Regions from separate parts of the Homo sapiens genome. Here region 1 is linked to region 2. Evidence: fine-mapped expression QTL. A gene starts in region 2. The other region holds a variant in brackets. All regions are shown on one strand. Distances are from middle to middle.

What was found.
Region 1: its variant is fine-mapped to the expression of GSTA4 in liver (GTEx, PIP above 0.99).

Annotation. Positions count from the first base shown.
Region 1 is chr6:52,917,626-52,920,540 of GRCh38, reverse strand. No RefSeq gene overlaps it. Among named protein-coding and RNA genes, the nearest start is that of GSTA3, 9.4 kb to the right of the region's middle. The variant G/A (reference allele first, on the strand shown) is at 1,577.
Region 2 is chr6:52,993,775-52,996,689 of GRCh38, reverse strand. It overlaps GSTA4 (glutathione S-transferase alpha 4), which reads left to right and starts at 1,406. Exons shown (of 7, transcript NM_001512.4): 1 at 1,406-1,441; 2 at 2,429-2,533. The coding sequence starts at 2,447. RN7SK (RNA component of 7SK nuclear ribonucleoprotein) reads right to left here and starts at 1,070; the gene lies at 739-1,070. RefSeq lists silencers at 833-922, 1,254-1,485 and an enhancer at 1,083-1,302.

The DNA.
Region 1 (2,915 bases), 76 kb after region 2:
ATTTAGGTATACAGCTTTCAACATGGGCAGTTATGAGGGACCTGTTCCCCCCACTCTTGCCAGGGCCCCAAGTTTGTAATGGCTAAGAGAAGGAGAGAGAGAGGATGGAGGAGATAGAGACGGAGGGGAGAGACAGAGAGATGGAGGAGAGAGAGACACTGAGGAGAGAGAGAGAGACAGAGGGAGTCAAAAAGAAAGAAATAGTAAAAAAAAAAAAAAGTACGCTGTACTCCTTTAAAAGCCAGCGTAAATTTAAAACCTATAATTGATAATTGAAGGTCCTCTCCGTGACCCTATAACACTCCAATACTACCTTGTTGTCAGTGTAAACAAGGGCGTAGCCTGAAAACACTGAGACCACAGAAAACCAGTAGCTTTCCTATCAAAAATCCTTAACCCAGTAACCCATGGATGCATTCAATCTGTAGCGGCAACTGCTTTGCTAACAGAAGAAAGTAGAAAAGTAACCTTTAGAGGAAACCTCATTGTGAGCACACCTCACCAGTTCAGAGTTATTCTAAGTCAAAAAAGCAAAAAGGTTACTAACTCAAAAATCTTAAAGTATGGGGGCTATTCTGTTAGAAAAAGGTAATGTAACTCCAACCACTGATAATTCCCTTAACCCAGCAGATTTCCTAACAGGGGATTTAAATCTTAATTACCATACAAAGGTCCAACCAGACCTAGGAGGAACTCCCTTCAGGACAGGAAGATAGATGGTTCCTCTCAGGTGATTGAGGATACAATGGGTATTCAGTAACTGACAGGGAGATTCTTGTGGAAGCAGAGTTAGAAAAATTGCCTAATAATTGCTCTGCTCAAACATGCAAGCTGTTTGCACTCAGCCAAGCCTTAAAGTACTTACAGAATCAAGTACTTACTCAATCCTGACTCAAAAAGTTACCTACACGTTCTCTGAAATGAATTTGCATAAGAACTGTTGTTTATGGGAATGCATCTTGATGGGGCAGCTGGGTTGTTATGAAATATTCAGGAACCCAGCCCAGCTCTAGGACTCACCCCTGAGCACAAAGGCAATGTTGGACACACTGGTAAAGGACCACTAGAATCCAGCAGCCCAGACCCATTTCTTTGTGGTCAAGAAAGGTGGGAAAACAGGGGCAGGACTGCCACATCAGTGAGCTTAACTAATCCAATAAGCAGAGGTCCATGGGTGGTTACGCACCCTGGAAAGTAATAAGCATTAGGACCATAGAGGATGCTCTATGACTAATGCTCATTGGAAAATTACTGGGGTGCTGGCATCCTTATGTTCTTTTTTCAGATGGGAAACGTTTCCCCCAAGGCAAAAACACCCCTAAGATGTATTGTGGAGAATTCAGCCCAGTCAGAGTGTATGCACCTTTTTCCCTCTCACAGTTGAAGCAAATTAAAATAGACCTAGGTAAATTCTCAGATAACCCTGATGGCTATATTAATGTTTTACAAGGGTTAGGACAATCTTTTGATCTGACATGGAGACATATAATGTTACTGCTAGATCAAACACTAACCCCAAATGAGAGAAGTGCCACCAAAACTGCAGCCCAAGAGTGTGGCAATCTCTGGTATCTCC[G/A]TCAGGTCAATGACAGGATGACAACAGAGGAAAGAGAACAATTCCCCACAGGCCAGCAGGCAGTTTCCAGTGTAGACCCACACTGGGACACAGATTCAGAACATGGAGATTGGTGCCACAGACATTTGCTACCTTGCATGCTAGAAGGACTAAGGAAAACTAGGAAGAAGCCTATGAATTATTCAATGATGTCCACTATAACACAGGGAAAGGAAGAAAATCCTACGGCCTTTCTGGAGAGACTAAGGGAGACATTGAGGAAGCATACCTCTCTGTCACCTGACTCTCTTGAAGGCCAACTAATCTTAAAGGATAAGTTTATCCTTTAAGTCAGCTGCACACATTAGAAAAAAAACTTCAAAAGTCCGCCTTAGGCCTGGAGCAAAATTTAGAAACACTATTGAACTTGGCAACCTCAGTTGTTTATAATAGAGATCAGGAGGAGCAGGCGGATTGGACAAACGGGATAAACAAAAGGCCACTTCTTTAGTCATAGCCCTCAGGCAAGCGGACTTTGGAGGCTCTGGAAAGGGCAAATCAAATGCCTAATAGGGCTTGCTTCCAGTGTGATCTACAAGGGCACTTTAAAGAAGATTGTCCAAGTAGAAATAAGCTACCCCCTTGTCCATGCCCCTTATGTCAAGGGAATCACTGGAAGGCCTACTGCCCCAGGGGATGAAGGTCCTCTGAGTCAGAAGCCACTAACCAGAAGATCCAGCAGCAAGACTGAGGGTGCCTGGGGCAAGTGCCAGCCCATGCCATCACCCTCACAGAGCCCCGGGTATGTGTGACCATTGAGGGCCAGGAGGTTAACTGTCTCCTGGACACTGGCGCGGCCTTCTCAGTCTTACTCTCCTGTTCCGGACAACTGTCCTCCAGATCTGTCACTATCCGAGGGGTCCTAGGACAGGCAGTCACTAGATACTTCTCCCAGCAACTAAGTTGTGACTGGGGAACTTCACTCTTTTCACATGCTTTTCTAATTATGCCTGAAAGCCCCACTCCCTTGTTAGGGAGAGACATTCTAGCAAAAGCAGGGGCCATTATACACCTGAACATAGGAGAAGGAACACCTGTTTGTTGTTCCCTGCTTGAGGAAGGAATTAATCCTGAAGTCTGGGCAACAGAAGGACACTATGGATGAGCAAAGAATGCCCATCCTGTTCAAGTTAAACTGAAGGATTCCACCTCCTTTCCCTACCAAAGGCAGTACCCCCTTAGACTCAAGGCCCAACAAGGACTCCAAAGGATTGTTAAGGACGTAAAAGCCCAAGGCCTAGTAAAACCATGCAATAGCCCCTGCAGTACATCAATTTTAGGAGTACCGAAACCCAACGGA
Region 2 (2,915 bases):
TGATAGTTTTAATATATTTTTAATGTTTTAACTAACTTGCCAGCCAAATTATTCTTTTAGCACCACCCCCAACTCCAAAGACCCCCTTCCAAACAGGTGCTGACTTGAGACCGTGACTATAGAGCACTTGTCTCTAAAATGTACAAAATGAAGAGAAATCTCAAGATGTCCCACTGAGATGAAGAAAGAAAGAAGAAAATATGTATGTTTGTATACATGTATACATGTATATATATGTATACACAAAATTAGAAAAGTTAGGGTCTACTGTATAAATTAAATAAGCGTTGACAGTGCTTTTGATTTTAATCTGTATGTGGTACTTTGCCTGCTTAACACCCTTATGTGGATTTCCTGACGGACTTGACATTCCTGTCAGGAAAGCATTGCGTACTTGCTGATTAAAAAGCATCTAAGGGCCGGGAGCGGTGGCTCACGCCTGCAATCCCAGCACGAGGCAGGAGGATCACCTGACGTCAGGAGTTCAAGACCACCCTGGTCAACATGGCGAAACCCCGTCTTTACTAAAAATAGAAAAATTAGCCGGGCATGGTGGCGCGCGCCTGTAATCCCAGCTACTCGGGAGGCTGAGTCAGGAGAATCGCTTGAACCCGGGAGGTGGAGGTTACAGTGAGCCGAGATCCGTCTCAAAAATAAAAAATAAATAATGAAAAAAATTAAAAATTTAAAAATTAAAAAACATTTAAAAAAGCATCTAACTTAGATGGGTAATGGGTCAAAAGAAAGGCAGACTGCCACATGCAGCGCCTCATTTGGATGTGTCTGGAGTCTTGGAAGCTTGACTACCCTACGTTCTCCTACAAATGGACCTTGAGAGCTTGTTTGGAGGTTCTAGCAGGGGAGCGCAGCTACTCGTATACCCTTGACCGAAGACCGGTCCTCCTCTATCGGGGATGGTCGTCCTCTTCGACCGAGCGCGCAGCTTCGGGAGGGACGCACATGGAGCGGTGAGGGAGGAAGGGGACACCCGCCTAGCCAGCCAGATCAGCCGAATCAACCCTGGCGATCAATGGGGTGACAGATGTCGCAGCCAGATCGCCCTCACATCCGAGGTACCCAAGCGGCGCACAAGCTATATAAACCTGAAGGAAGTCTCAACTTTACACTTAGGTCAAGTTGCTTATCGTACTAGAGCTTCAGCAGGAAATTTAACTAAAATCTAATTTAACCAGCATAGCAAATATCATTTATTCCCAAAATGCTAAAGTTTGAGATAAACGGACTTGATTTCCGGCTGTTTTGACACTATCCAGAATGCCTTGCAGATGGGTGGGGCATGCTAAATACTGCAGTCTCCATTGGTGAGGTCGTCCCGGAGCCTCGCCCAGCTCCCGCGCGCTAGAGCCGCCTGCTGGTCTCACCCAGCCGGGACCGCTGACCTGGCGCTTTGTGCGGCTCCAGGCCTCCGAGTGGACTCCAGGTCTGTCTCCCTCCTGCGGTCGCCCCCTTCCTCGCCCTTTCTCTCTTCTTTTTTTTCCCTCCCCTTTACTCTCTGAGTCTCACTCTCGCATTCTTCCCTCACTCCCCCAGTTCAGTCCTTCTCTTGTCTTTTCTTCCTCTTGTCCTTTGTCCTCCTGCTCCATCCAGTCTGGGCAGAGGTGGGCCCCTTGGCTGGAGCTGGGGTCCTTCTTGGCTCAGTGTGCGTATTTTTTTTTAAACCCCTTCTGCGGAGTCTGAATGCATTGGTGGAAGGTGGGCTCGGATCGTCCCCGGGCCTGGCTGGGCTGCCGCTACGCCCCTGCATGGGCTGAGCGGGGAAGACGAGCATGGGAGAGTGCGATCTCAGATGGCCAAGCCCTGGCCCCCGGCTCGTTTTACAAGGCCGGGGGCTCATCTCCCTGTAGGGGTGGTGGACACGCGGGACCCGGGGGGCGCAGCCACCGCATGCGTGACGGTGGACGCACATTTTGCAGACAGTAGTAGTACTCGGCCTGTTCACCTTCCAGTTGCCGTGATAATAAAATATGATGATGTATGTAAAAGCATGAATACTTGAAGAGCTTCCAGTGGCTGTGCGATTTTCCTTCGCTACCCTCTTCAACGCCTGCCACCCCCTATCCCCCAGCTGAATTTGGAAAATCTGAGATTCTCGAGGTCAAAATATATAATATTCTGAATTTGTGAAATCCCGTACTGCTAGCACATATGTTTTTACAACAAATGGCCCCAGCTTCCCAAGATCCAGGATAAGAAGTCATAAATAGAAATCATATAAAAGCCAAGGTTTTTTTCTCCATGTTTTAAAATGGTGGTTTTTTTTTCTTGAGTGAGGGAAAATGCAGCAACAAAAATAAAGAACAGTTTCCCGTGCCAAAATCCTGAATATTCATTTCGCCCCTGAGCACTGGGTTGAAGACGCGAAATTGGGACTGTTGGTCTGCGACGAGCTGCTGCATTTGTATTTCAGAAAGCCTGAAAAGCTATCATGGCAGCAAGGCCCAAGCTCCACTATCCCAACGGAAGAGGCCGGATGGAGTCCGTGAGATGGGTTTTAGCTGCCGCCGGAGTCGAGGTACCTTATATGCTGTTTCTTCACGGATTTGTCATACAGCTTTTGAGACCTTTGAAAGAAAAATACGTTTTGAAGCACCGTTCAGTTCTAGTTCTCGTCCACCAAAATCACAGGCACGCTTCACTGAGTCAGATACCATCCCTGAAGGGATTTTTCTTTATAATTAGAACGTAGTTGATGGAATTCTATTTTCCTTTTGACTTTTACTTAATTATTGGCTTCTGATCTAGCACCAGTGAATATTTATTAATAAGAAGAAAGGAAATTTACCTGAAAATTGTCAGTTACTCTGAGCTCTTATTAATTATGCATTCTCAGGGTAAATTTCTTGTTTTCTTCAGTGGCTTCAAACTGGCAGCCTTGGTATCTTGCTTACATATGT